Regions from separate parts of the Homo sapiens genome. Here all the other regions are linked to region 2. Evidence: fine-mapped expression QTL. A gene starts in region 2. Each other region holds a variant in brackets. All regions are shown on one strand. Distances are from middle to middle. Region 1 overlaps MCF2 (MCF.2 cell line derived transforming sequence). Region 2 holds the start of MCF2 (MCF.2 cell line derived transforming sequence). Region 3 overlaps MCF2 (MCF.2 cell line derived transforming sequence). Region 4 overlaps ATP11C (ATPase phospholipid transporting 11C (ATP11C blood group)).

Region 1 (8,082 bases), 63 kb before region 2:
TGTTATCTCGATATTTTTAGTGAGCAAGTTTATATTTTAAACCATAACATCAATAACATTATATTAATCTTTGAAAGAAAAAGAGTGGCATTTAAAGCCTTTTTGATGATTAGTTTTTTATTAAATTAGCTAGTGTTATTTCAACATTTCTCCAAAATACATCTAAAGATCACATTAGAAATTTGCTGGGAATTTACTATATGAATAAATGAATGAAGGGAAAATTTAGGCAAAAGACTGCATGAAATGTACCTGAGAGGAGAGACTTCCAAATTCTAGTCTATATTGAAAAGTGAGTTACTGTCTTTTTCCCTAAAAGAAAAAAGTTGTCAGCAGGTGACAATTTTGTACCTACGAAGTTTCAGTTTGGAGAAGAATTGAAACCATAAGGATTTCAAATCATTACAGATTTTAAATTTATTCACTTATACGGTAACACCCAGGAAAGGCTGCATTTTTAAGTGATGATGGAATCCCCTCCAGACCTATCCATGGCAATATACTCTACTTGATCATGGTGAAAGAAAGGATGAATCCTTTTGTTAGATATTGTTTTAAGTCATTATTTAAAGCTATGCTGTCCAATGATTCAAAATTGTTCATACAGTCTTAAACGAATAACATGACTAAGGTGCTCATTCATAAACCTGATGACATTTAGATTTTGAAATTATATTCTACCCCCTCAATTGCCTGAAAATTACCCTATGTCAATATCACAGTAATCACATCAATGCAATCCATGCAAATATAAGTCTCCATTCTCTCCATCTGTCCTTAAAAACCCTACTCAGCAGTTTGTGCTATAGCACCATGCTGCAGCATCCCAGCACTTGAACTTGGGAACAGGCTTTCCAGGAGTGCAGACAGAGCCCTTACCGCATTCCTTCTGAACCTCATCTTGCCTCTCCGGGGATTTGCTTCTGCCATTTCGCCTGTACGCAATTACACTTTTCTTTTCCAATTGTCAACGCAACGTTGATGAAATACGAGCTGCTTCTTGGGTAGTATTTAAAAACGGCAGCCAAAAATCTCTATCAAACAAAGCTGCCGTGGCTGCTTCCATTAGCACAGTGGCAGCAATGCTGGGGAGGAAAAAAAAAAAAAAACCACTATCCCTGATTAGTCAGCTGACAGATCCTTCCCTTCTGCTCCTTGTAATTCAGAGTTAACACATTCCTCCAATTACTTAGCCTGATTGAACCTTGTGGATTAGCTTGTGCTGGACTGCTCAAGAAGATCAGGCATGTCCTAAGAGTGGAAGGAGGAGGAAAAAAAAACCAGCTCTCTTCCTAGGAGCAGGCTTGATGGGACTGGCTTTCTCCTCTGCGCAGTTTGATTTTTAAGGTGGAATGCTAAGAATCTTTGTGAAGGTAGTATTAACTCATGCTTTTTACTCTCGTCCTACCCTGGTATGTGACTTAAATTTCAATTCTGTTTTGTTTTCTCTGTTATTGTATTCTGGGTTTAAGCCTTGTGAAAGGCTATAGTTTGCAAAATTTTGTCCTGGTAATAATCTAGAAAGAATAGAACATGCAAACTTTCTAAGACGGATACAATTCTCTCCCAAATTAACCTTTCCCCAAAATGTATAACTAAAATAAAGTCTCCTCTCATTAATTATGAAATACAACCTAAATGCTTTTATTTGTTTTGAAATCTACAAATAAAGGTATTCAAATTGAATTGTATGATTATTTCACAGACACTTGTTTGAAATAATACACCACAGGCAATTATACCTAGCTACACAATGGTAGATTTCACTAGAAATCCTTTCTGAATGCCAACTTTTGCACTTGAAATTAGCTTGCATTCAATATTTACCTTTATTTCAAACAGTAACCAACAGTTACTAATGGTTGAGATGTAATTAATGTGCTCTTGAGTATGAGTATAGAAACTATACCACAAGCAAAAACATTTAACATGTTAAAAAAGAAACACCTAAAACAACCTATAGCCAGTTACATGTGGTCAGAATCTGTACCCCTCCCTTGCCCAGCACGATCAATTTGGCAGTTATGAAAATAAAGGGACCCTGGGATCCAAGTTCTTTACTGAGCATAGGTCAAAATTCTCCACTGAGAAAGCAGCCCTGGGAATACAGAAAGAGGAGTATCACTCCCCGGTAGACAAGTAATTACCCTCTGTTGACTTCAAAATGACAGGATCATGACCTAATCTTATATTTCTCTTTTATGAAAAATAGAACCTCTGTTACAAGCCACCTATTTTGAATAATAAAAATAAAACTCTACCAAAAAAACTAACGTCAGGTGCCAAACCAGTCACAAAATGAAAATTAATTTAATCAGGCGGGTGCAGTGTTGGCCAAAAGAAAAAAACCTGGGTGATAAAAAATGTTCTAATGTAACAAGTGCTTTATTTAGTATAAGAGAAGCAATTATTAGCATAAACCAAGGTCTACTCAGCAAGCCCAAGGACCAATCCTAAAAGACC[G/A]GAGCAAGGGAAATAGCTTTTACTTTATTTAGCCCCACTGATAAGGCTCAATTGTATATGGAGGACAGATCTAATCTCTCAAAAGAAATTTTACCTTTATCTAAATAACATTGAATGTATTTGTCTATTTGTAAGCCAATTGGAAAATGATAGAAACCATCACCAACTGGAATTCTTGACATTTCAATTCTTGCTCTGGCTTTTTTGGTTACTTGGCTATTTGAGCTTGGATTCATCACATAGCCATTCCAAAGTATAAATATCAATGTGATTTCATCATCTATAAGACAATTATAGTGATACCTACTTGCAGTACTTAATCAGGAAATGAAGAGAATCAACAATACTTAATAAATGTGAATGCTTTTGAAAAAGCACTAATATGCTATAGAAAGTCAAATTTTCTTCTATTTTATTTTAGTAATTTGAGTATATCTAATGTTAACTCTTCTCTCCACTGCTAATGATTAAACACCTCTGTTAAATAAACAGGAAACCACTTTTTGCTTATTTGTCCAAAGTGAGGAATAATTCATTCTGAGTATTAAAAGAATAATGATCTTACCCATTTTACCTTGCAAGTGCTAGAACATTGGCTTGGAAGTCCAACAACCTAGATTTTTGTTTTGCCTTTGCAACTAAATCAAGTTCTTGTGGTGGGCGTGACCTCCTCAATCAGTCAGGAGACAAAGTAAGAATTTCAGATGGCTGGCAATGTTGGAATCTCAAAGAAAAAAAATATATTGATTCCCAGCTATTCTAGTCTGATAGAGGAAGTTGGCCACATGGCACTTCCACAGAGAGCCCATATCTTGCCAGCTCAGAAGGAGTCTGGGGGTCCCTCATCTCCCTCCTCGTCTATGAAAGTGAAGTGTCAAACAATTTTGTGATACCCTTGTGAGCCTAAAAGTGTAAAAGATTATCTTGGTCATGGGCAGAATTGTACCTCTCGTTATTTTAATTAGAGAAAATGTTTCTCTCTCTGGGTCTTGGGAACCTGGGGACTAGATACCAGTAGGGAAGTTATATATCATTTTATATGTGACTCATCTCCCTACCCTATCCTAGGGTAAAACAAATCTAGAAAGTTGTACACTGAAATGTTAAAAACTGCTTATTTTGGGGTGGTTGGATTACTATTGTTTTAAACTTTCTTCTTTATACTTTTTCACATACGAGTATGCAACACAGCTATTTCCACCAAAATAAATAAATAAATAAATAATTTTAAAAAGCTTCCATAAAAACTTGCCTTGTCCTGAAAGGCACATAGAACCATGAATCTCTTCTCACTCATAACTGGAGCCACAAACTACTCACTCATTCTTACTAGGTTTTATTTTGGGTAGAGTTATTTATCTCAGTCTCTGCTACAACCTCTCCTTCTACTTTCCCTCCTCACATTCCATCAATTTTTATTGTCTCCGTCAGTACCAAAGTAATCTATACCTCCCAAAACAGAAAGTATAATATAAAACAAAAATAAAAAGTTACTGTATAATGCATAGATACTTACCGAGATTTTTTGGAGAGAGATTTTGAGAGAAGACCATGTATCCAATCTTCGATCCAGAATAATGGTAAACCGGGAGTCTGATCCATTTTGCCTGAACGATAAGAAGAAATAAGAACTTTTTCTTAATAATAATGCAAATTTGTTATATATGCCTTCATTCTATTTCTGATTATTTCATCTACATTTGATGTCTTGACTGAAGACAGATTTGGAATTGGAAAGCTATCACAAAGTCCTATCTTAGAAAACTAATCTGAATACATATTCCCTTACTCACTATTTAAAATTTCTTTTGCAGCATTAATGTCAATCTTTTAAATAGGAAAGTGATAGTGTAATGAAGATAGGTCACTAAAATTGATTTAGAATACTGTAATCTTGGGTGTGGGAAAACTCAAAAGATAAGTGTCCTTCATGATATCAGATTTAACTTTCCATGCAATCCATCATGAGTCAATGATCCATTCACTCATTCAAAATCACACTGCTAAATCTATTTTTCTAACTCTAGTCTGCTCCTGAGGAAATGCAGTTTAATGGAAAATATAACTTCTATTTGCCCTAAAAATATCACTTTCAAGCTTCAATAGGTACATTGTAAGTTTCATTTTCTGAGATTTGATTTTTGTTCATGAGACTTTGAATTTTATCATCCTAGATTTGTGTCCTCTTGTTCTTCAGGGTTAGTAACTAGAAAATTCTTCCTTTGAAAATTTTGTCTTTAACACACATAAAATCTCTAAGAAACCTTTTTAAACTTTCCATTTTAAAGCATTCTAGTTCCAAATAATTTTTAATTTCAAGACATTCCTCCTAGTATCTCCCAGTACCACTATTGAATCTACTTAAGATTCAGTCTTCTTGTGTTATATTCAGAAGAAATGAAAAATGGCTGTACTCACTCTTGGCTGGTAATATTTCCTTTTAAGCAAATTAAAGCATATATGTATGACCATCGTTCTCAACCTATGTTCTTTTTGATGGGAACAAATACTCCTAGATCCCCAATTTTATTTTCATAGATTCTCAGGATAATTTTTGTAACAATTTAGGTAGCTGCCAGCTTCTCCTTCTAAGTTGTACTTCTTATCTACTCTGAAGTTAAGTCAGTTGGTTATTCACCATGATAATAATAGCTATATTAAGCCATTTTCATGTTATGACATTCAGATGGATATCTGATATAAAGCGAATTGAAAAAAATGTAATGAAATACTATACCTTGCAATAGATGTCAGGTAAGTAAGTACTTTTGCTATTACTTCCTCTGGTATACATCTAAAATTACAGTTTTCTGGAAACGTAATGATCCAAGCATTGTCCTTTCCCCGGCCACCTACAACAATAGAAAAATAATCAACTGAATTAAAAATGTATATAACAACGAAGCAAGAAGAGGATTTTAGATTTGAATACTGTTTTGCAGCAACACAACTTTTTTGCAAAGATGATGATCTCCACATAAAACCAAAATGGCTCCAAGTTCCTGACACTTTAAGTTTAAAAGGTGGCAGAGTAGTTTCTCAATAAAAAAAGAAAAAGAAAGAGAGTAAAATGAATGAATATAGTCAGAAGAAAATGTCATGAAATGCATATAATAAATACAGTGGAAAATAGCTGATTCCCCAATCTGGACAACCAAGGGGTTGGGAAATAACTGTTTCTATACCAATGAGCCTAAATTTAAAATGAGTGAATGATGGCTTGACAGCAAGTGGAAAATTTGATATAATCGATCTCTTAGTGTCATGGTGAGCAGGAAAAGATACAGAGCACCCTATAGGAAATAGGTGATGGTCTAATGTGTTTATGGAAGAAACAACAAAAGGAATGATGGCAGGAATGACATAGGAATTTTATTAATGCAAAGAAAGATCACAAATTATCTGTGGGTCAAAATTCAATGTTCAGCCTGGGTAGGGGTCCAGGCAGAGGTGTAGGGTTGTGGAAGCTCCCCGCAGACCCATGCAGCCATTAACCTGGAGCAGTTGCATCCAGCAGTATCTTGACCAAGTGGGTGACCTTGACTCCTGGAAAGCATGGATCCCAGTGCTCATAGGTGAGGCTGCCCTAAGCCCATTTCCATAGGAACCAGGAATAATGGTAACTGTCATAGGGGTTCTTGGTGAGGGAATGATTGCACCAGCTCTGGGCTTTCATTTTGGTTTCTACCCGTTTCTCCACCCAGCCCAATAGCCCTCTATGCAGCCTGAAGGATGAGAAATATTGAAAACGAAAGCCACTTAAGTGCAGAGATGAGCCTTACATGTGTTTAAGGTTCACATCTGCAGCCAGCCTAGCACCTACACAGAGAGCGAATGCTCAATAAATACTAAGTGCCAAATAGAATCTGAAGAATTATTTTAGGAGGAAAGTTGCAAGGTGGCCTTTGAAATTAGCTCAGCAATAGAAATTTTTTTAGTTCAGTTGTAATTTTTATTTGGCTGAATTTAAGTGAATAAAGATGTAAAAATATTTTTAATTCAATCTGCAATAAAAATATGACAATAGAAAAGGATACAGGCCGGGCACAGTGGTTCATGCCTGTAACCCCAGCACTTTGGGAGGCCGAAGCCAGAGGATCACTTGAGGTCAGGAGTACAAGACCAGCCTGGCCAACATGTTGAAACCCTGTCTCTACCAAAAATACAAAAATTAGCCGGGTGTGGTGGTGCACGCCTGTAATCCCAGCTACTCCGGAGGTTGAGGCAGGAGAATCGCTTGAACCTGGGAGGCAAAGGTTGCGGTGAGCCAAGATCATGCCACTACACTCCAGCCTGGACAACAGAGCAAGACCCCGTCTCTCCACGCCCCCCCCAAAAAGAAAGAAAAAGAAAAGGATATAAAATGGAATCACAACAATACTCAACGCAAAAGAAGACAGAAATGGAGGAAAACAAAGAACACATGGGACAAATGGGAAAAGCTACCATCTCACTATTTGTATTTTGCTTATTATATGATAGTAAGATGGTAGATTTAAATCCATCCATATGAATAATCACATAAAATGTCAATGATCTAGGCACTGCAATTAAAAGTCAAAGATCATCAAACTGGATAAAAAGAAAGACTGAATTATATGCTGCCCACAAGAAACACACATTTTAAATATAAAAGTACAAATTATTAAAAGCAAAGGATAGAAAAAGATATACCATGACAGTGCTAATCAAAACAAAGCTGTCTAATATTTGACAAAGTAGATTTCAGAGTCGAAAATATTACCAGATATTAAAATGATCATTTGATCATGATAAAGTGGTCGATTCATCAATGGGACATAATCTTAAATGCTTATGCACCTAATAACAGAGCTTCAAAATACACAAAGCAAAAACTGATAGAGTGGCAAGAGGAAATAGACAAATTCACAATTTTAGTCAGATATTTCACCACCCATCTCTCAATAATTGATAGAACAAGTAGACAAAGAATTTGCAAGGATATTGTATACCTGAACAACAGTCTCAACCAACATGACCTAATTGACATTTCTAGAACACTCCATCCAACAAAAGCAGAATACACTTTCTTCTCTAGTGCACATGGAAAAAGATCAAATTAATTATTTGCCTCAATATTTACCAAGGGAAACTTGAGAGACAGTATTCATTCCCAAATTATTTTTTAATCAAACTAGTCCAAAGTATTAAATCAAAGGGTTATTAATCTTCACTGTATGATATTCCAGAATTAGAGTAGAGTGAAAATAATCACTGAGAATAATGGCATCCACTGAAGAGTTTTTAAAAAACTCAAAGGAGAAACTGTACAATTCTGAACCAAGAGATTTAGTGAATCTTTAAGCAAAGGGCCTCTATAGATACAGTATGGTATAGAACTAGTAATATAAATGATATGTAATATATAATGTAATAAATATCTTAAATATAACTACATACTTGCCAAGCAAGCTGGTGAGCACTCTAGTTAAGGACAGAACCATCTAGCACTTAGGCAAACTACACTTATCAAAGGAAAGGTGGCAAGGCTCCTATAAGAGTAAATTATCATTGACTAATCTATAAATGATTATTACCACTGAACACCTACAAGTACTGTCCTACGAGTAAACTTTATGAGAAGAGATCAAAAGAGAT
Region 2 (8,082 bases):
TCCTATTCAACATAGTACTGGAAGTCCTAGCCAGAGCAGTCAGGCAAGAGAAAGAAATAAAAAGCATCCACGTATGAAAAGAAGTCACACAATCTCTTTTCCTTGATGATATGAATCTATACTTAGAAAATTTTAAAGATGCTGCCAAAAGGCTCCTAGAAATTGCCTTGTGAACTTGCATATGATTGGCTTATAAATTTGGACAGCTTAAGTAAAGTTGCAGGATACAAAATTAATGTACAAAAATCAGTACCATTTCTATGCATCAACAACATCCAGGCTGAGAGTGAAATCAAGAACACAGTCCCCAAAATCTCAAAAATCACCACTAAAGAACTTACTCATGTAACAAAACACCACCAGTTCCCCAATAACCTGTGGAAATGAAAAATTAAACAAAAATAAAGAACACAGTCTCACTCACAACAGCCACAAAGAAAATGAAATACCTAGAAATACACCTAACCAAGGAGGTGAAAAGTCTCCACAAAGAGAACTACAAAACACTGATGAAAGAAATCAGGAATGACACAAATAAATGGAAAAACATTCCATGTTCATGGATTGGAAGAATCAATATCATAAAAATGGCCATACTGCCCAAAGCAATCTACAGATTCAGTGCTATTCCTATCAAACTGCTAATGGCATTCTTCACACAATTAGAAAAAAAAAAAACTATTCTAAAATTCACATGAAACCAAAAAAGAGCCCAAATAACCAAAGCAATCCAAAGCAAAAAGAACAAAGACGGAGGCATCACACTACCCAACTTCAAACTACACTATAAAGCCACAGTAAACAAAACAACTTGGGTGGCTGGGCACAGTGGCTCACATCTGTAATCCCAGCACTTTGGGAGGCTGAGGTGGCCAGATCACTTGAGGTCAGGAGTTTGAAACCAGCCTGGCCAACATGGTGAAACCCCATCTCTACTAAAACATACACAAATCAGCCAGGCGTGGTGGCGGGCACCTGTAATTCCAGCTACTGGGGAGGCTGAGGCAGGAGAATTGCTTGAATCCAGGGGCATAGGTTGCAGTGAGCTGAGATCACACCATTGCACTCCAGCCTAGGCGACAGAGTGAGACTCAGTCTCAAAAACAAACAAACAAACAAATAAAGACAGCTTGGTAGTGGTACAAAAACAGACACATAGACCAATGGAACAGAATAGAGAACTCAGAAATAAAGCTGCACAGCTACAACCATCTGATCTTTGACAAGGCCAACCAAAACAAGCAGTGGGAAAACAATTCCATATTCAGTAAATGGTGCTGAGATAACTGGCTAGCCATATGCAGAAGATTGAAGCTGGGCCCATACCTTTCTCCATATGCAAAAATTAACTAAAAATGGATTAAAGATTTTAATGTAAGATCTCAAACTATAGAAATCCTGGAAGAAAACCTAGGAAATACTCTTTTCGACATTGGCCTTGGTAAAGAATTTTTGGCTAAGTCCCTAAAAGCAATTGCAATAAAACCAGAAATAGACCAGTGGGACCTCATTAAACTAAAGAGCTTCTGTACAGCAAAAGAAACTATCAGCAGAGCAAACAGACAACCTACAGAATGGGAGAAGATATTTGCAAACTATGTATCTGACAAAGGTCTAATACTCAGAATCTATAGGGAACTTGAAAAAATTAACAAGTAAAAACCAAATAACACCATTAAAAAGTGGGCAAATGACATGAACAGGCACTTTTCGAAAGAAGACATACAAATGGCCAACAAATATATGAAACAATACTCAGCATCACTATCATCAGAGAAATGCAAATCAAAACCACAATGAGATACCATCTCACACCAGTCAGAATGGCTATTACTAAAAAGTCAAAAAACAACAGATGCTGGCTGGCAAGGCAGCAGAGAAAAGCAAACACTTATACACTGTTGGTGGAAATGTAAATTAGTCCAGCCGCTGTGGAAAGCAGTCTGGAGATTTCTGAAAGAACTTAAAACAATTCTACCACTGGACACAGCAATCCCATTACTGGGTATGTACCCAAAAGAAATTATTCTACCAAAAAGACACATGCACTTGTATGTTCATCACTGCACTGTTCACAATAGCAAAGACATGGAGTCAACCCAGGTTCCCATCAGTGGTAAATGGGATAAAGAAAATGTGCTACATATACATTATGGAATACTAGGCAGCCATAAAAAAGAAAGAAATCATTCTTTGCAGCAACATGCACGGAGCTGGAGGCCATAATTCTAAGCAAGTTAGTGCAGGAACAGAAAACCAAATACCACATGTTCTCATTTATGAAGGGAGCTAAGCATTGAGCACACATGGACATTAATATGGGAACAACAGATATTGTGGACTACTAGAGGGTGCAGGGAGGTGGGGAGGATAAAAAAAAAAACAACTATTGGGTACTATGCTCACTACCAGGATGACAGGATCTGTACCTTAAGCCTCAGCATCATGTAATATTCCCATATGACAAATCTGCACATGTACCCCCTTATCTAAAATTAAAGTTGAAAAAAAATGAAACAAAATGACATTGAACTTCTCAATAGCAACACTGGATTCTACAAACTAATGGAAAAATAAACACAAAATCAGGGGGGAAAAGGTTTTTCAGCTTGGAACTTTATACTGCGTCAGACTCTCAAACAAAAATAAAGGTTGTCTAAGATATTTTCAGACATAATTATTATTATTATTATTATTAATAAAAGTTTATAACCCATATAAAGAAGTTAGTAGAGAATGTATTCCCCAAAAAAATGATGAAGTACATCAATGAAGAGCAAGACAATGAATCTAGGAAATAATGATCCGATACAGGAGCACAGACAAAGGGAATTTCAGAAAGAGATGTGCAGCTAGCCGGCAGAGTAACCAGCTCAGATGAAAAAAGAAGGATGGAGGGCTCTGGGAGGGAGCTGCTCCCATCCCTTTCTACCTCTTTCTCACCAAGTTTGGTGAGTTTTCCTTAGGATCTTTTTGGGCCCCTCAAGCAACTTTCAAGAACCTTGCATATCAGAGAAAAAAAGGGTTGGAGTTTCCAATCCTTTCATTCTGAGAAGACCTCTAGGTTCTTCATATAAACAGTCCCACTCCTTCCCCAGAAACTTTCTACCTCCACAAATAAATACTATAGAGGCAAGAATAAAATGTGGTTTTGCCTCACTAGAGACCCTGCTTTAAAAAATGTGAGAAACATCACCATATTCTTTTGGAAGATTGCCCTCAAGACCTCCCATTTTTCTTTGCTCTCCAAGTCTACATCCCCCCGGCTACCTTCTGGGGACCAAGGTAGTTCTTCTTGGTCTGGAAAATTTGCGTGCTTAAAAAGAACTGGACACAAATAATGGAATGGTCTTTTACCCACTGAAAATAAATAATCTGCTGTCCAAATTTATAAGCCAACCATATGCAAGTTCACAAGGCAATTTCTCAAGTCCTAATCCCTAGACGGCTCAGAGACTGAGGCCCATACATTGCATAGGAACCACACCAAGGTACAGCCATCCCATGAAGCCCAGGTGCACACCAGATTTGTTATACTAATAGTTCCAGGTTTACAGTGGTGAAGTTCTAATCCAGAGTTGAGAAATTCCCACCTGCCTTTACTTGGGAATCCTAATTATTTTAGAAAAAACTGAACAGTAGACAAAGAACTGTCAGAGAAACCCAAAGCAGGCTATTGCGGTCTGTATGGACAGATACACCTTTACAAGAACTGCACTGTGTCCTGCAAATCATTGGTCCTAGAAATGGGGGATTCTGGGGAAAAGGGGAAACTACTACAAGAATGAAAATGACTGGCTATGGGGGATGCTATCTATAAAAATATTCCAAGACTGACCCACTCATTGCCCCAATCCATTTCTTATATTACTCTAAGGTAAAGAAATACTTACCACAAATGTTTGTCCTTAAGACTGTCGCAGCTCATTCTGTTTCCTCGGCCAAAAGAATGTACAATACTCTCTGCCTGCTCCAAGAACAAAAGCCTTCTTGCTCTTAACATGAAAAAAAGTTTCAAAGCCAATCTGATGTCAGCAACTGAAAGTGTAGAGAAGCCTTGACTTGAAGTAGAACCCAGAAACAAAATTATAAATCATACACTGTATCACAGTAGAGGAAGGAGACCTAATTTTTTTTTTTATTTACAAGGACAAATCTGGAGAAACAGAACGCCCACTCAAGAGTTAGCCCGACAGTTTGAAAACAAAATACTTCTGCACAAAATGCAGAAGAAGCTGGGCATATCTTTTTTTGTACACGACAAATAAAAATTGTATGGTGTACAATATGATTTCTGATGTATGTATACATCCTGGAATGGCTAAATCAAGCTAATTAATACTTTCTTTACCTCACATATGTATCCTTTTTGTGGTGGGAACATGTAAAATCTACTCTCTTAGCAGTTTTCAAGTACACAATATATTGTTATTAACTATAGTTATCATGATGTACAATAGGTTTCTTGGCAGGGCGCAGCGGCTCACACCTGTAATCCCAGCACTTTGGGGGGCCGAGGTGGGTGGATCACTTGAGGTCACGAGTTCGAGACAAGCCTGGCCAACATGGTGAAACCTCATATCTACTAAAAATACAAAAATTAGCTGGGTGTGATGGCGGACACCTGTAATCCCACCTACTCAGGAGGCTGAGGCAGGAGAATCGCTTGAAGCCAAGAGGCAGAGGTTGCAGTGAGCTGAGATCACACCACTGCACTCCAGCCTGGGCAATAAAGTAAGACTCCATCTCAAAAAATATATACAAATAAAAATATGAAAAAAAATTTAAAAATTAAAAAATAGATCTCTTGATCTTTGTCCTCCTGTCTACGTGTAATGATGCATCCTTTGACCAACATCTCCCAAAACCCTGCCCCATCCTCTGGAAACCACCATTCTACTTTCTACTTCTATGAGTTTGACTTTTTTAGATTCCCCATAGGAGTGAGATCATACAGTATTTTTCTTTCTGTGTCTGGATTATTTCACTTAGCATAATGTCCACTAGGTTCATCCGTACTGTCACAAATGACAGAATTTCATTCTTTTTTAAAGGCTGAATAGCATTTGTGTATATATAGTATAGTATATATAGCATATACTATATACATAGCATATATAGCATATACTATATACATAGCATATATAGCATATACTATATACATAGCATATATAGCATATACTATATACATAGCATATATAGCATATACTATATACATAGTATATATAGCATATACTATGTATATAGTATATGCTATATATACTATGTATATAGTATATATAGCATATACTATATACATAGCATATATAGCATATACTATATACATAGCATATATAGCATATACTATATATACGAATGCTATTCGTATATATATACACTATATAGACACGAATGCTATCATTCATATATATATATATATATATATATATATACAGTATATATAAAAAATATTTTCTTGAGGTTGCTTCCATATCTTGGCTATTGTGAAGAGTGCTGCAATGAACATGGGAGTGTAGATATCTCTTTGACAGACTGATTTCATTTTCTTTGGATATATACCCAGTAGTGGCATTGCTGGATCATATGGTAATTGATAATATGACCATAAATGCCTGGATTTTTTCTGGGCCAGAACATTCATACTGTTTTCCATAGTGGCTGTGCTAATTTACATTCCCACCAACAAGGGCTCCCTTTTCTCCACATCCTCACAAGCACTTGTTATCTTATGTTTTTGATAATTGCTACCCTAACAGGTGCAAAATGTTATCTAAATGTGGTTTTAATTTGCATTTTTGTGATGATAAGTGATGTTGAACATTTTGTCATATACTGGTTGGCCATTTGTATGTCTTCTTTTTAAGAAATGTCTACTCAGGTTCTTTGACCATTTTTAATTGGGTTATTTACTACTTTTTGCTATTGAGTTGAGTTCTTTATATATCTTGGGTATTAACCACTTATCAGATGTATGGTCTGTAAGTATTTTTCCCATTCCATAGATGGTCTTTTGACTCAGTTGTTTCCTTTGATGTACAGAAAACTTTTTAGTTTAATGCTATCCCATTTGTCTATATTTCCTTTTGTTGTCTGTGCTTTTGGGGTCATATCCAAAAAATCTCTGCCTAGACTAATGTCAAGAAACTTTTCTTCTATGTTACTTATTTTGAATTGACACATAGCAAATACATACATATGTATATATATATATATATATATATATAAAATTTATGGAGTGCAGTGTGATGTTTTAATACATGTATACACTGTATAATGATGAAATCAGGGTAATTAGCATATCCATGACCTCATATATTTGTCATATCTTTGTGGTGAGAACATTCAGTTTGAGGTCTTACCTTTAAGTCTTTAATCCATTTTGAGTTGATTTTTGCACATGGTGTGAGATGTGTCTAATTTCATTGTTTTGCATGTGTATATCCAGTTTTCCCAACACCATTTATTGATGAGGCTGTCTTTTCTCCATTGTGTGTTTTTGGCAACTTTTTTGAAGAACAGTTGACCATAAATGCCTGGATTTATTTCTGGGCCAGAAGATCTTTAAGGTATGTCCCAACCTTAATATATGTAGATAAAGGTAAATATATATATCCAGAAAAGCTTATTAAAATACTATCATCCTTACTTGGTTCTTTTTTGTATGTTATCTATATAATTGAAAATGGACATGCATTTACTTTACAACAAGAAAATATAACACATATTTTTAAAAGATACCAAAAATAGAAGTGATCCTTTTAAAACTTAAGTGAGATTATGTCACTCCTCTGTTCATAATATTCCAGACTTCTACTGGAATTCAGAATCAAATCTAATGTCCTTATCATAGTCTACACAGCTCTACATGCTCTCATCCTTCCATACCTAATTTCAACTCCTACCAATCTCCCTCCATTTTGGTCACAGTGACCTCCTGGCAGTACCTCCAATATGCCATGAAAGCTCCTATCTTGGGGTCTGGGCATTTGCTGTTCACATGGCCTGGATTCCCCTTCATCCATATATATGAATGGCTCCCTCTCTCACTTAATTCAGTTCTCTGCTCAAATGTCACCTTGTCAGAGAGAACTTCTTTTACTACCATATCTAAAGTAGCACCTGCTATCATTCTCGGAATATTTGCTTTGATTGCATAAACACTAAAACTTTCTGTGCAATATAAAAGATACATTCTTAATGATTAATTGACACAGAGAAAAATATTTGTGAAATACATGACAACATGCACATATTCTAATATACAGAATTATAATGAGTAAAAAAGGTGAGCAACTTAATAGGACAATGGGTGAAGGAAGTGTAATTGACAAAAGAGGAAATATAAACACCCACATGTACATGGAAAATCTATTGGAACTCACAAATAAGCAAAGAAAAGCTAATATTACCAAGAGTAAACACTATTTTTCCTTTAATCCAGGAGTTGGCAAATTTTTTTTTCTGTAAACAGCTAAGATAATAGAAATGTCCCCCTTTGTGGGCCACATATAGTCTTGGTCAGACATTCTTCATTACCTTTTTTTCCCTACAGCCCTAAAGATGCTGACTGGGTTGCTGACCCCAGATCTATGAGGAATGATTAAAGATGGAGAGCACTTAATGCTGAGAATGGGGAGGGTAAACTGGCTGACTGTTGTTGCGGGCACAGATTCATATAGCTTTTCTCAAAGACAGTTTGTCATGTACATATCTTTTGCCCCAGGAATTCCACATTTTTGACTTTACACCAAGAAGCTACTCGGGCAGGAATGGAAATATTTTTGTACAGAATACATTGCCATGTTATTCATAATAGCAGGCAAGAGGAGGAGGAGAAATTTATATAATAAACTAGGAAATAGTTAAACCATGTGCATGAAATAAATGAAATGCCACACAGCTATTTAAAAGTCATATATATATGAATTAATTTATATAGAACAATCATACGACTTTTTATGGTTTAAAATTATAGTGTGTATAACATAGTTCAATAGATACAAAATTATATATGTATATATGTTGTGTATATGTGTATATATACATATACATATTCAAAAAAATATGGTTACCTCAGGGGGG
Region 3 (8,082 bases), 73 kb before region 2:
AACCTATATAAATAAGCAAAAAAGATACTGTTAACTGCCCTTCATGCCATCCCTCCATTAAACTGTAAAATGAACTTTGGCATACATTTAGCAGAAAGTTACCTCTGATAAATGGTTTTAACAGTTCTCTCCTGTACATGCCCCCATACATGTATGCGCTACCTTCTTCAGATAATAACAGTTTCTATTTACAAAACATTTTCTGTAAAGCTAAATCAATCTCCACAGAAACCAAAACGCCTAATTTTCCTCCATCTAAAAGTTTGCATTGTTAATGGTCCAGCTTCTAAAAGAATGCTATGCTCACAACAAAGAAAAGGACTTTATGTAGTAAGTTATAATTTATCAGGAGGGGCTGACCTTTTCAAAAGTATCAAAATTTATGAGCACCCTATTCCTAACCTTAAAAACAAACAAAAATATTTTTAAAAAGTCATGGTACTCTGGACTAGCTCAGGATGTAAGTTCACGGGAGTTCAAATACATAAAACATACACTCAATTTTACTAAAAATAAAATTTCCTGCTTATATACACATACACGCACATACATATACACACATGCACACATACATATATACACATATATATAACATATATGACATATATTTTTTGCAAAAGTAATTGCTTTGTTATAAATTGATGAATCGATTTCTTTTTCAAATGGTAGAAGTGAAAGACTTTTGGGCATTTCAAATGTATACTTTTAAAAGACATTTTAATTTTTTTCTTTTAAATGACACATGGGCACATGTAAAATATAAACAGCATGGTACAGGTCTTCATGAGAATTAGAGGAACAAAACATTTAAATAATATACTCTTACTGGTAATTTAAGCATAAAATCCTCCTGACTAAACCAAAATCCAATGTCTGTGAACGTTCGTTGAAGAAAGCTGGTAGGACGTAAAACCAAAACCAAGTGCAAGTTCCCAGGGAAGGAAGCCTGTAGAAAGAAAGAACAAAAGAAATTGGAAAAAAAATTGTCAACACACACTCAACTGAGCACATATCAGAAAATATGTAACTGAAGGAAACAAATTTTAAATTCATAAAAGCCAGTAAAAGGCCAACACTTTACAAATGGATATTGATAAAATCTAAAAACATGCAAATAGAAAAATAATGTAAGGCTCCAGGTCAGATCCTTGCAACACTTCTGGTACGAAATTTTCTCACACTAAAGAAGTAGATCCAACCTTATGAAGAAATAGACTCTAAATCTTATTTTAGAGTTATTTGAACTCAAATTGCACTTATTTCCTATAAAAACAAATAGAATTAGGTGGCAGTTTCCTAGGATAACCCTAAAAGTCAAAGGGTTTTTGTCTGTGTATTTACACTAAACAATGAAAGAAAACTTTATTATGGGATTATATTTTTATTTTAATCCAATCAATATTTACTGAACATCTTCTATGTGTCTACTTCATGTATTTAAATGAATATCAAGCTCTGTTAGGCATTGAATGTTCACAAATTAAGAAAACACAATCTCTACCCAACAGTTCAACTGCAGAGTCCATTACTAATCAGCAATTCTTTAACTAAATTGATAAGTAATCAAAGGAATTAGAATAATATACAAGGGGAAATGATAGCACAAACTCTCCGAGACATAGGAAGGTCAAAAAGATCTTGAAGCATAACGAGGAGTTAACTGGATCAGAATGTTGTTCTAGTTCACCAATGTTTCCCCAGCGTCTAGAACTTGCTGGCACATAGTATGCAGTCAAAAATAACTGCTACACTAAAGAATTCAAAAGACAAAGAAGGAGGACACATTGCAAAATAAGTGGAGAACGGAGTAACATATCCCAATTTTAATAACAAATCACCACGTACTAAATGCTTACTCTGTGCAAAGCATTTTGCCAATATTATCATAAATTCTTTTCATAATAATTCTATGAAGGAGTTAGGTTACTCACTTTTACAAATAAAGAAAGTGAGACTCAGAGAGTTTAAGGATACCTTCCCCCAGCTGGCAAAGCCTTCATTTGCCCCTAAGTCTGTGCTCTTAATCACTAAACTACTCCACCTCCTGAAAAGGCCCTAGTCAAGAGAGCTAGATGAAATGACACTGGGGGACAATGGGAGATGGTGTTGGGAAAACGGGCCAGAACCACATCAGAAAGGATCATGGGTTTTTTTTTCCTGGAGGTAAGGGGAGTCTCTAAAAGGTTTTGAGCATCAGAACAACATGGTCAAATTTGCATTTTAGAAAGATCACTTTGGCTTTGGGAAGAACTGGATTTGAACAAGAGTAGAAGCAGACAGATGAGCTAGGAGGCTGGTACAGTAATCCAAGCCAGGAATGATGAGTTTCTGAACTAAAGTAATGATACCAGGAATAAGAGTAGAATTTAGGAGGCACAATCAGCAAGACATAACTACTTGATGTACTTGCCGAGAAAGGAGGTACTAGGAGGATCAAACTCCAGATTTGGGGCTTGAGTAACTGGTTGAATAGTACAACCTTCACTGAGATGGGAAACACAAGAGAAACAGGTTTTAAGAAGGGAAACAAGATTCTGATCTCCATTCATATACACGTTAGGTTGGAAGGGTCAGCAGGACATCCAGATGATGTCCTTCGGATAGCTGTTTGTACAATTAAGAAGGGAAAGAAGTCTAGGCTAAAAGTGGAGAATCAGGAGCCATCAGCCTCAAGATGGCAGATTAGAGCATAATAGAGCAAAATATATGAAAAATGTTCCAACTGCAATTATATTTCAGGCATATTACAATACTAGTAATTAAACAAAACTATAAACTAAGAATAAGATACTGTGGGGCAAGGAGTTTATGGGAACTCTCTGTACTTCCTGTTAAATTTTGTTGTGAACTTAAAACTGCTCTAAAAAAATAAAGTCTATTTTAAAATAAAAGAAAAAAGTAACTTCCACCAGGGTATAAAACATAGACTCTTTGGGAAATGATGCTCAAAACTGGGGATTTTCCTAATTCAATTTGAGATGGTGATAAAACATAAAATGTTAAGTGGCAATGAGAACTAGAGTAAATGAAAGAGAAATGAGTGTGATAAGCACAAATAAGTAAATTAAAAGAGCATAAAATTAAATCAATAAATTAAACAATGATTATCAATATACATAAATTGGGATGGCTGTCCAACTCATAATTCCCCCAGGAGGCCATGACTGTTACTCTCTCCCTTCATCTGAGAAACGACTCCCCCTTCTATTATTCTACACATTGGTTCCAAATGAGAACTCTTATTTTCCTACACGGCCCTGCCCTTCCAACACACAATGATTAATAGTGATTAGAAGTATGATTAGGGCCAGACATGGTGATTCATGCCTGTAATCCCAACAGGCTAGGAGACCGAGGATGGAGGATCACTTGAGGCCAGGAGTTCCAGAACAGCTTGGACAACATAGTGAGACCCCATCTCTACAAAAAATTTAAAAATTATCCAGTCATGGTGGCATGCGCCTATGGTTCCAGTTACTCAGGAGGCTGAGGCGGGAGGATCACTTGAGCCCAGGAAGTTGAGCCTGCAGTGAGCCATGATGGCGACAGAGCGAGACCTCATCTTTTTAAAAAAGAAAAAGAAAAAACATAAGTATGAACATTTGATGTAAGCAGGGCCAAAGAAGTCCTGCCCTAGAATTTTCAAACGAATACTGAGTGAAGGAAACTTTGAGGATGCCATTCAAAAGCAGCAGATTGCCAAGAGCCCTGCTGCTGGGGAAACATTGAAAAGAATAAAGTTAACATGTATACAGAAACAGAGAGAGACAGAGAAACAGAGAGTTCCAACGGTAATGTATATCCTACCTTCTATTATGTACGTAATGTATATTTTATTTTATGTTAAGTATAATATGTATTTTCCAGCTGGACACGGTGGCTCACACCTGTAATCCCAGCACTTTGGGAAGCTGAGGTGGGAGGATTATTTGAGGCCAGGAGTTCGAGACCAGCCTGGCCAACATGGTGAAAACCCGTTTCTACTAAAAATACAAAAAATTAGCCGGGTGTGTTGGCACACGCCTGTGGTCCCCGCTCCTGGGGAGGCTGAAGCATGAGAATCACTTGAACCCAGGAGGTGGAGGCTGTGGTGATCTGAGATTATGCCACTGCACTCCAGCCTGGGCAACAGGGTGAGACTCTGCCGAAAAAAAATATATATATATGTTTTCCAGTTATTACAGGAATTAAAAGAAATAATGAATATAAAGGCACTTCTAAAATTTTTATTTTAGGTTTGGGGGTATATGCAAAGGTTACAGAGACAAACACGTGTCACAGTGGGGGTTGTTGTACATATTATTCCTTCACCTAGGTATTAAGCTCAGTACCCAATAGTGATCTTTTCTGCTCCTCTCCCTCCTCCCACCCTCCACCCTCAAGTAGACCCGTGTCTGTTGTTTCCTTCTTTGTGTTCATAACTTCTTATTTAGCTCCCACTTATAAGTGAGAACATGCAGTATTTAAGGAACTTAAACAAATTTACAAGAGAAAAACAAACAACCCCATTAAAAAGTGGGCCAAGGACATGAAAAGGCACTTTTTAAACTGTAAAAAATATTAATAAGATAGTTTTAAAATTTTGCCTTGGATTCTCGGACGTCAGAACAAGCAGGTTTGGGTAGAAAACTTTAGGGATATGGATAAAGGCTAGCTTAAGGGAAGAATCTGACAGGGACTTGTGGGAACTTTTGGCCTATTTTTAAGTGGAAAGCACAGATTCTATTTTTACTCCCTTAATTTTAGGAGTTAAGCCTTTCCTTTTTCTTCACCTGGGTAAATTCCCATTATATTATTATACTCACCTGCCTTGAACCTGTTTATTTTTTCACTTTTAAATGAAATTGAAAGCACCCTACTTTTGCCAACATTTAAAGCAAAATTACTTTTATTCTTTCATGGATTCTAAGTTGATCTGGTTTCATCTTTCTCTCTCTGACTTCCCTTAATCTCATATTCTCTTGTATCTAGAATTATCTGGATACAAGAACCTGGGGCTGACTTCAAGCCAGGGGTACTCACCCATCTCCAAAATTATGTGTGAGGGAGGAGGGGATGGGAGGATACTATGGGAATAGAGAGAGCTATGTAGCAACTCTCTGCCTGAGGTAAGGCCCTGCTCTCTACTCTGCCATTCCTAGGAGAGCAAGGCTGTACCAGCAGCCAGGTCCAGAGACAGCTGATCACATAGCAGGGAACAAAGTAGAAAGAAAGGAGAGAGAAGGAAAATCACCGTCTGCAAGATGAGTGGGGAAGTGATTTTAAGCAGGGGTAGGGGTATTCAGCTGCTCATAAGCTAGGGATTTTATGTTGGATGTTTATTAAACCTGTTATTGCTCTATTTAATAAAGTGGATTATCCCAAACATTGACGGCTATATAAGTTGCTTCTAAAGATAATTCTATATGCTAATCAGTTCATTCTTAAGTAAAACCTTCTGATTATCTTAGCATACCTTCTCATTCCTTAATTCCTTCAAAAT[G/A]TTTAGTAATTCACTTGTCACAAAAAGCCCAGAAAAACTTGGGCTTTTAAAGAAAATGCACCATCAAAGGATGAAAACTTCATTTATTGACTACATAATAACATTTACAATATTTTTTGTTATAGTTTATAGTACAATTTTATAATCTTTTTTGCATATCTTCCTAGAGCACATGGATTCTGTTAACCCAATAGTTACTCCCAATTTTAGTAGCCATTTGGGAGACTAAATAACTTGTAGGCAATAGCTACACAACTACTAAGCAATCAGAGCAATCAGGTGGCACTCAAACAATTCATCTGATTTGTCAGTTATTTTTCTAGAAAACTAAATCATATAGTTTAGACCAGGTGTGTTGTTTTCATCCCTCGTGCCCACACGTGAATAAGACATACCTGAATTTTTAATCCCACTCCCATTCACTTAACCCAGACCATAACAGGTGCCTACCAAACTGTCACACTTTTAAAGTATGACATTTATGACTACTTTTCATAGCTTCTCTTTAGCAAAAAAAATACGTATATTTATGTATATTTATATATTCAGGACCTCTCAAAGCTTTAAGGTAGGGAAAGGAGATTGGAGAGTTGGACAGGGGTGGAAATGTCATTTATTGAATGCATACTACTAGAATTATGCCCATAAAGAGCACTATTATGACATTGTGCTAAGTATTTACATGCAGTAGGTTCTATTTTTGTCCTCATTTCACAACTGGAGAAACTGAGTGCCATTATCCTCAAAGATGTCTACATCCTAATCCCTGGAACCTGGTAATATGTTATCTTATATGGTAAAAGAGACTTTATAAATGTGATTAAGGATCTTGATATGGGGAGATTATCCGGGATTATCATGGTGGGACCGATGTAATCATTAGGATAAGAGGGAGGCAGGAGAGTCAGAGAAGAAGATGTGATGGCAGAGGTCAAAGTGATGCAGGGGTATAAACCAAGGAATGTGGACGATCTCTGCAAGCTAGAAAAGTCAAAGAAACAGATTCTTCTCTAGAGACTCCAGAAGGAACACAGCTCTGCTGACCCTTGATTTTTAGCCCAGTTGGGTAATCTTGGACTTCTGACCTCCAGAACCGTAATGATACATTTTCACTGTTTTAAGCCACTAAGTTTGTAGTAATCTATTACAGCAGCAATAGGGAACTAACACATTGAGGTTTTGTGAGGTCAGGCAATTTTTCAAGACCTTCTAGCACATAAGTAGCAGAATTAAAACCCCGCTTCACCTGCCTGTTGAACTAGACTCAGTCAACAAGAGGAATTTGCAGAAGTTATAGCAGGGATGACACAAGAATCAGGTTGGTTGAGAATCTAAACCTGAGACCTAAAGCAGAGGTGACAAACTTGAATGCCTACCATGTGTTAGGGAGATAATGTAAATGTGAAGTAGGCTTAATTAAAGAACAGCCTAAATTAGGTGGAAAATAGCAATTCATACTCCTCCTATATGACGAGGAGCAACAGGAAGTGGTGGGGACCATGGTGAACTGGAGAACATTCAAAGCAGAGGGCACTCATAAGTCAGTTCACTCATAAATCAGTTCCAGCTACATGTTGTCATGTGGCAAGGTGGGCCCAGCATTGCCAACTCTTTGGTTTCTCAAGAGAAGACAGAAATCCAGATTGTCATGCAAAGCCCAGATGTTTAAAGATGGAAAACAAATTGAAAGTTTGTTAAAATGCTGCATACTCTAAACAAAACGCATCTGTGCACTGACAATTTGCAACCTCTGAACCAAAAAGCTTCATAGATCTGAACATCAATCAATATCAATAATATGGACACGTCCTTATCTGTGATTGCCGGCTATGAGAATCTAGAGGGGACAGAACACTCTTGAGCAATTTTAACCTGACAAGCCATATACATTTAAGATTAGTTTGTATGTATCTATGTTGATATACATATAAGTATATATAGAGAGTACTTTTTCTCTATATACCAATATTTGTAACAACTAAAATTCTCAAGATAATCCATTTTAAAGCTAGTATTTAAATGAACAATCAAACAGCATAGGGTATCAGATGCACATATCAAAGCAAATATAGTTCAAGACCAGTGAACTTTCCCATTTTGGTTTGGGAATATTATATTTCTAAATTCTTGGGTATGCTGCTTTAAGAACCTCTAATCTGTATGGTTATATAAACATGAAAAAGCACAATTTCTTTTTCCCCAAAATAAAAACTGAGATTTTGAAAGTATAATTCATTTTTGAGAACTTGTCAAAAAAGCAAAGGGATTTGGGCAAAGGTTAGTCTTGTTTTATTTCAATGTGTTTTTGCTTTTTTAAAAAAATAGTTTGCACGAGAGAGGAAACAGCATTGGTTTTAGGTTCTCGCAGACATTTTTCTGGAGTTCCAGCATGTGACTGCTTAAAGACATCTCAGTAAAAGCGAACCAGCTGCCTATCACATAGGACTCGGAGCCATGTGTCCAATCACTGTACGTGGTCCCACCCCAGCCCTCAGCAGCAGCTCTTACAGGCTCTTCAAGGTAACGAGCACAAAATAAGCTCCCTCTCATCTTTCCCTCCCAGAGAACAGATTTACTCCCTTTTACTCACACGTACTTCC
Region 4 (8,082 bases), 110 kb after region 2:
CCTCCTTATGCCTCGGTTTCATCATCTGTAAAGAGAGGATAATAAAAATACCTACTTCATATGGCTGTTGTTGAGGGTTAAATGAGTTAACAGAATGTAAAAAAAGACTGCCTGGCATATACTACATACCATATAAATGGTGACTACTATTTTTATTATTGTTATCAATACTACTATCATCCTAATATAAGCCCTTATCATTTTTTGCCTAAGCTATATCTCTCTGATTGCACATTCATGCTTTCATTTTGCCTCACTCCAGTTTTATTTTTAAAAATCATCAAGTCACTCTCCGGCTTTAACACTTCAAAGACTCCCCACCACACTAAGGATGCAGACCAAGTCTCTCTCTTGCTCAAAAGGAGTCTCAACAAACTCTTTCCCCCGACTCCCCAGCCAAGCAATCTGCTATTTAGAGACTGCTGGCTAATAAGCATCTCTTCCCACACACTTACACTCCAGAAACAGCTACATCAAATAGCATCTCACACAATAATTTAATCACAATAGCTTCACATTTATTTAATCAAGATTATACCTGGTTGAGTTCAGCCTCAAGGAAAAGAAGCTTGGTGGAGGGAAAATGAAAAATGGGGGCCTTTGTAAAGGGGAGTGGGGTGGAGTGTCAACAAAATCAGAAAGAGGAAATGAAAGAAAGGGAGAGATGTAAGAGGCCTTTGCCTGCTTTGCAATTTTACGTAGTGTACTGGGAACAACAGATTGGATGCTATGAATCATTTAGGCAGCCTTTGTTTGTTGTTACTGTTGTTGGTTTTTTTTTTTTTTTGAGACAGGGTCTCACTCTGTCACCCAGGCTGGAGTGCAGTGGCTCGATCTCGGATCACCGCAGCCTCAACTTTTTGGGCTCAGGTGATCCTCCCACCTCAGCCTCCCAAGTAGCTGGGACTGCCTGGCTAATTTTTTTGGAGAGACAGGGTTTTGCCATGTTGCCCAGGATGGATTCCAACTCCTGGACTCAAGCGATCCACCCAACTTGGCCTCCCAGAGTGCTGGGATTACAGGCGTAAGCCACTGTACTCAGTCTGCCTTTGGTTCTTACGCTGATCAATAATGCTGAGTTTCTACAGTTGTTTCAAAAACTTCAGATCTTAACCTAACCTAGTTCGGCACAAGTTCCCCCTTGACCAGGATGTAAAGAATAGAGAAAAGAAAAAGTAGAAAAAGGAAGACATTCTATGTCAAACACTGGTGACCCTCCCACTCTGTAGTCTTCCTCCCATCATTACTATAAGATGATGCAAGGAAATTTAACTATTGTTGGGCATATGGAGAATTCTTAAAATTCAATAAGAAAACAACCTGCTTTAAAAATGGGCAAAATCTAAGCAGCATCTCACCAATGAAGATATACAGATGACAAAGAACCATATGAAAAGAAAGTCCATATCATATGTTATCAGTGAAATGCTAATTAAGACAAAAGTGAGATAGTACTACACACCTGTTAAAATGGCCAACATACAAAGCACTGAGAACATCAAAACCCAGTGAGGATGTGGAACAACAAGAACTCCCATTCATTGTTGGTGAGAATGCAAAATGATACAGCTACTTTGGAAGATAGTTTGGCAGTTTCTTACAAAACGAAACATACTCTTACCATACAATTCAGCACTTCTTTGTATTTACTCAAATGAATTGAAAATGTATGTCCATATAAAAACCTGCACACAAATGTTTATAGCAGTTTTACTCATAATTGCCAAAACTCGGAGGCAACTAAAATGCCCTTCAGTAGGTGAATGGATAAACTATGGTATATCCAGAAAATGAAATATTATTCATCACTAGAAACAAATGAGCTATCAAGCCATGGAAAGACATGGAAGAAACTTGAAAGCATATTACTAAGTGAAAGAAGCCAATCTGAAAAGGCTGTATGATTCTAAATATGTGACATCCTAGGAAAGGCAAAACTATAGAGACAGCAGAAAGATCGCTGGTTACCATGGGTTGGGGGGAATAAGGAATGAACAGGAAGAGAACAGAAGATTTTTAGGGCAGTGAAACTATCCTGGTATGACACTACTATGGATACATATGTACATATATACAAATGTAGGCTATGTGGATATGTATCCTATATTTAACAAAACCCACAGAATGTACACCAAGAGTGACCCCTAATATAATCTATGGACTTTGGGTGATAGTGTGCCAAAATAGGTTCACTGATTGTAACAAATGTACCATTCTGGTGTGGGATGTTGACAGCCAGAGAAAATGTGTTTGGGGACAGTGGGTTTATGGGTACTCTCTATATTTTCTACTCAATTTTCCTGTGAACCTAAAACTGCTCTAAAAATATAATTTTTTAATTTAAAAAATCTAATGAGAACCAAAAAATTAGTGTTTGACATGGACAAGTCAAAAATGTTATTTGACAGGGTCTTACTGGGTAAATAATAAACAATGATTAACTGGAATAAACAATTGCCTGAGATTGTCAAAAAAAAAAATACTACTACCTTGGAAGTCTCTTATGTTGCTGATGGGAATGTAAAATGGTACAGGCACTATGGAAAATAGTTTAGTGGTTCATTAAAAAGTTAAACACGTAATTACAATATGACCCAGCAATTTTCCTCCTAGGTATATACCTCAAAGAATTAAAAACAGATGTTCAAACAAAAACTGTAATTCAATGTTCATAGCAATTCATAATACCCAAAAGGTAGAAACAACCCAAATGTCCATCAGCTGGTGAATAAATAAAATGAAATGTTATTCAGCTATCAAAAGGAATGAAATGCTGCTATATACTATAATGCAGATGAACCTCAAAAACATTCTGAGTGAAAGAAGCTAGACAAAAAGGACACATAAGAAATATGAAACATTCAGAATACATACATCCATAGGGACAGAAAGAAGGTTAGTATTGCCAGGGCCTGGGAGGAGGGAGAAATGTGGAGTGACTGCTTATGGGTATAGGGTTTCCTTTTCGGGTGATGAAAATGTTCTGGAACTAGATAGAGTTAACGGTTGCACAACATTATAAAGTACTAAATGACACTAAATTATACACTTTAAAATGGTGTATTTTTACCATTAAAAAAGGAGTGGACTAAGAAAAAATACCTTGATTTTTTCACTTTCTTTTCTCACTCGCTTTGCATTTTCAATAATGTAAACAGTGCTTTTGTTGACTTCATTGTCAGCTCTGTGTCTCAGACAATCCTCATATCCCTGAAAGATAAAAATAACTATATAATTGAGTTCTGATAATGAAATAAAGCTGTTAATAAATTTCTATATCCTCCCATGAGTCAACACCAAATATTTATAATTATAGCATTAATTTAAACTCAGAATGCTAAAGAGACAATGCTACACATTTTAATAGCAAATCTGAGACACACTTTCAAAATACTCCTTAGATAAATAGCTTTGTTGTGTTAAAAGTTTTCTCCACTCTTTAAACATTAATGAAAACACAAGCACTGGAGACTTAATATTTTCATGTGTGAAAGGCTATGATTTATTTTAACTGTACTCTTGAGTTAGTTAATTCTATTTTTTAATTTGAAAAAAGATTGTCCTGGGTTTGTATTTTCTTATAGCCATAATCACTTACATATAATCTTTTGTATATGCTGTAGTAGACTGTTCGAGTAATCATCTCCAAGGGAGTATTTTAATTATTTCTCACCCACAGAGAATAATAGAAAAGGCAAGCAAGGATTGTTTTGGCAGAGAAGCTATGATAAGTTGTAGAGATCAACAGCTAAACTTTTCAACTGACTTGGTGACAAAAGAAAATATAAATTGGTATTCATCGTTTCCAGTTAAAAGTAATCAGAGAAAGATCTAATGGCTCATTTTACTTTGGACTTTTCATCTAAAGTAGATTTAAGCCAAAAGATCTAAAGGATGTTCATGAATGTTTGATCATGACCTCCTCTCCTTTTTTATATACCTTTGTCTTTTTTCGTTGTAAGAATGTCTGTACCTTTTCAAACACAACTGTTTGAAAAGTCTCTTCATCGCCTCCCCCCACTTTTTCCCCTCAGGTACTATATCCATTCTTCTTCTGTCCTCTTTATGACAATGCTAAGCTATCACTTTATAGAGTACATTTTGTGATGCTGGTGAAGAAATAAAGGTCCTAACATGAACCAGTATTGGGAGCAGAATGAATCAGTAAAAAAGCCTTTGAAAACCACACATGCTATTCTTGGAACCAGCAATTTTATGATGTTAAAGAAAATAATCCTATCAGTCTAAGGAAAAGAACATTCCAAAAGTCTTTATTTTGCAACTGAACACTTGATAAAATATTCTTATAGTTCCTGGTAGGCAAGATATAAGACCAGATAACCCCAAGAGGAAAGGTAATCTTGTTCCCAATAATGCTAAGAAGACCTTTGTTTTGCAAGCTTCTTTGGTACCCTTTTTAAAAGCACTTTGTTAAATATCATCTAAAAATATGTTTGTAAATAGTCAGATGCTGTGGACTGACACAAAACATGATTAACATTGTTAACCTACCCTTTCACCTCCAATTTCCTGTTTCCATTTTCATCTGCAATTTTTCAAACATACTAGCATACAAAATGTTCAAAATACTTCAAAGACATCCATATCACAATCTGTGGCAGTCTATCAGCTCTGACAAAAAACAGGAAATGTCCCCTCTACCTACTACCCCCTGAAGCAGTAGAAGGAAAAAACAAGAAAATTAAAGTATTCTTCCCTTGAGTTCTCGCTACAGGCTTAAGCAATTTTTAAAAATCCACAAAAATGGGAGTTTTTCACACAGACATACCA[C/T]GCTGAAACAATTAATATGCATTAAAAAATCTGCCTCCTATTTCCTGACTGGGCTGTACCTTTTACCTGCTCTTTCTTTTACATTTACACCCACATACACAGATATTTAAGAGGAAACAAGGAAATACATTAAGGATGTGCCTATCATTTTAATAGGTTTTCAAGAGGAACCAAATATAAAATAAATCCATAAAGGATACTACCCACTGTATATAAATATGAAAAAGAGCCTTTGACAATGAAATTCCAACAAGCCTGGACTGAAATGCAGGTGCAAGTGTAAATAAGAAATTTACCTGCTTGATGGCTGTAACAGTTATAACAAAGAAAAGTGGAAGTCCACTGGTAACTGGGCTAGTTGGTGTGTCTACTGTGACCTAGGTAAATAAAATTAAATTGAAAGTAAAATGAAAATTTGTCATTAACTCATATGCAGCACTTACATGCTGCAAACATTTCAAACAGAAACATAGACAAAACACTTTCCAGTAGTAGGGTAAATATTAATTTTCATTAAAACAAAAGCAAACTACATGGCAGTTAGTTTAAGAAATAGTCCTAAATTCAGGCATAGTTTTTATCCCAGCTTGGATTAACCCCTTTATTGAAATATATCCATTCACTTACCACCTATTTGCTGAGCACCATTCTGTCAGCGCTTGTGCTATTATCAGCAAAGCTCTAGAGATACTGCTTTAAACAAGATGGAGACAAGTCCCTGCCTTCATGTAGCTGGCAGCTTACAGGAAAAATCAGACAGTAAAACAAGTGTGTAGATGCTGAGGTCTGAAGGGTAAACAGGAGTTAACTAGACGAAAGGTAGTTTTCTAGGCACAGTGAACAGTATATGCAGGTCTCTAGGAAATAAAGGAAGCCAGTGGCGAGAGGGAGTGTGGTGTGAGATGGGGCTGGAGAGGGAGGCAGGAGCCAGACTGTGCAGGGCCCTCTAGGCCAAAGTAAGCTGTTCATTCTCTATCCCACAAATAGCAGGAAATCCTTGAAAGTTTTAAGCAAGGAAAGGTCACATGAACAGAACTGCATTTTGAAAAGATCATTCTTACTGCTCTGTGGAAGATGAATTAGAAGGGAACAAGAGTGAAGGCAGGGAGTCTATTTAGGAGGCTATTGCTGTAATCTAGGTGAAAGATGATGGGCTTGGACTAGTGTTAGCGGCAGGCATGGAAAGAAGTTCTATAAATATTTAGGAGGCAAAAATGCCAAGAGTTAGATGTAAATGCTAATATTAAAGATGTCTTCCAAGTATCGGGTTAGCATGTCTAGGTGAATGTTGTCATCATTTACTGACACAGGAAATACTGAAAAAGAACTACATTTAAGGGAGGATGATTTTGAGTTCAGTCTGCCCTCCCAACTCGTTGACTCTCATCTCCAACCCTCAACAAGCCCTGCCTCTGCCATACACCCTGTGTTGTAGATACAATGTATACTTCCATGTACGCAAGGCTTCTACATGGCTCTGTGACTTTAGGCAATCTCTTCCCTATCCCTGAAATACCAGTTCAGCATTCTCCACCAAGTAAATCCTTCTAATCCTTAAAGGCTCTGTTCAGATAGCATCTATTCTCTGAAGCCTTATCAAATTCCTCTTGGGTAGAAAAAAATGATAACTTACACTGTATACCCAAAGCATTCTGTTAATGCTTCTTGAATGGCTTTACTACATTAAGTGAATACATAACTGTTATGTGACTGGTCTTCTCAGCTATAGCATAAATTCTTTAAGAGTAGAAAAGCCATATCTTGATCTTCATTGTACCTGCTACCATTTTTGTTGTCTGTCCTACTGCACAGCACATAGTAGGTAGGTGAGTGGTATACATTTGCTGAACTGAAATGAAATGCACTGCCCACCAAGTAGAATGATTCTTTCAAGCAGAATCCTCTAGGTAGTTTATTCTATATCTGTAAGACATCTGACCATAGATCCAGAGGAGCTCCTTTTCAAATCTTCCATCATTCAGGATTAAAATAGGCTCTTGCCCATATTATATCCCAGACTGATTTTAAGTAGCAAGGCTAAATTCAATTACAGTACCATTTACTCAAAGCCTCAAAGTGAGTCAACAGAAGCACTTAACATCAACAGGGCATTGGAGCAACTTCAATGGGATTTTTCTGCTTCATTTAAAAAATGAAATGAGAAAAAAAGTACCTTTAATGTAGTAAAATTTTCAGGGGTAATTATGGCGAGGAAAAGATTTTAATAGCTTACAGATTTAAAGATGGAAGACACAATTTAAACTGTCTAAAATTTAAAACACAAAACAGTAGAAAGAATACAGAGAAGCAGATTGATCTAACTAGGCTCTCACCCTTACAGTGAGTAAATGAATGAGAGAGAGCAAAAATGGTAATCAGGAAGATGAGTGAGAAGTTTCCAATTAGGCTGAAACTGGTATGTAACAAAATAAAACTACTAGTTTGAACTATTTTCAGTTTTGATATATTCCATTTCATTTAATGGTACACAATACACGTCATCCTGGGATGAGCAAAAATATGATATCCATGAAAATTTCAAAGAAAGTAACAATGAAACAAAATCTCAACAGGTTTTCTAGTAAAAACACAACTTTAGAAATTTACAAAATGATAATCTTTAAATGTTATGTTTCTACTTTAAGAAGTCATAATAAGCTCTGGAATGTCTTTTTTTAATTACATGGCATTTTAAGGTTAGAAATAGATTGAAAATTCGTTTAAAGCAATCAAGTTTCTAAAAGTTAAGTGGCTGTTTAAGGAGCTCTTACCTGTACAAGGAAGATTATGAGAAAATAAAAATTTGCAATTCTTCTAAACTGTTCAAACAGATTCTTTGGGAGAAAATTCCAAAGTGTATACTGTAAGGGAGGAAGAAAAAAGAACACTGTTATGAAGAAAACTTGAAAAATCTTAATAGTAATGACTGATTATGGGTCCACATTATCATATAAAGTGATATTTAGTATGTCCAACACTTTGAAACTGAAATCTCACACATATACATAAGCATATATTTAGAGGCACTGTATATGAAAACCTTTTTCAGAAATGAAGCTTTCATTCTACGCATTACAATAACCATCTAGTCTCATACCTTTGCTTTCTCTGACCCAATCTAAATTAGGTTCCTTGTTATGTGTTCTCATGTCACCCTATATATACTTACTTGATAACACTTATTATAGTGAGTTATATATGTGTACATTTTAAATTAAAGTTTCTCCCTTGATAAGCAAAGAGTTCTATAGGAGCAGGTTGTTCACCTGTATTGTTTACAATTTTCCCAAC

What was found. PIP is the estimated chance that this variant, and not a neighbour inherited with it, causes the effect. A credible set is the group of variants that fine-mapping cannot tell apart.
Region 1: its variant is the best candidate, but not a certain one, in a credible set for the expression of MCF2 in spleen (GTEx, PIP 0.82).
Region 3: its variant is the best candidate, but not a certain one, in a credible set for the expression of MCF2 in thyroid (GTEx, PIP 0.50).
Region 4: its variant is the best candidate, but not a certain one, in a credible set for the expression of MCF2 in whole blood (TOPMed, PIP 0.79).

What each region holds. Positions count from the first base shown.
Region 1 is chrX:139,641,589-139,649,670 of GRCh38, forward strand. MCF2 (MCF.2 cell line derived transforming sequence) reads right to left here. Exons shown (of 29, transcript NM_001171876.2): 3 at 5,201-5,315; 4 at 3,980-4,070. Among named protein-coding and RNA genes, the nearest start is that of MCF2, 63 kb to the right of the region's middle. The variant G/A (reference allele first, on the strand shown) is at 2,464.
Region 2 is chrX:139,704,213-139,712,294 of GRCh38, forward strand. It overlaps MCF2 (MCF.2 cell line derived transforming sequence), which reads right to left and starts at 3,955. Exons shown (of 29, transcript NM_001171876.2): 1 at 3,894-3,955.
Region 3 is chrX:139,631,509-139,639,590 of GRCh38, forward strand. It overlaps MCF2 (MCF.2 cell line derived transforming sequence), which reads right to left. Exons shown (of 29, transcript NM_001171876.2): 5 at 827-946; 6 at 1-3. Among named protein-coding and RNA genes, the nearest start is that of MCF2, 73 kb to the right of the region's middle. The variant G/A (reference allele first, on the strand shown) is at 5,483.
Region 4 is chrX:139,811,776-139,819,857 of GRCh38, forward strand. ATP11C (ATPase phospholipid transporting 11C (ATP11C blood group)) reads right to left here. Exons shown (of 30, transcript NM_001353812.2): 3 at 7,563-7,652; 4 at 5,088-5,168; 5 at 3,103-3,210. Among named protein-coding and RNA genes, the nearest start is that of MCF2, 110 kb to the left of the region's middle. The variant C/T (reference allele first, on the strand shown) is at 4,792.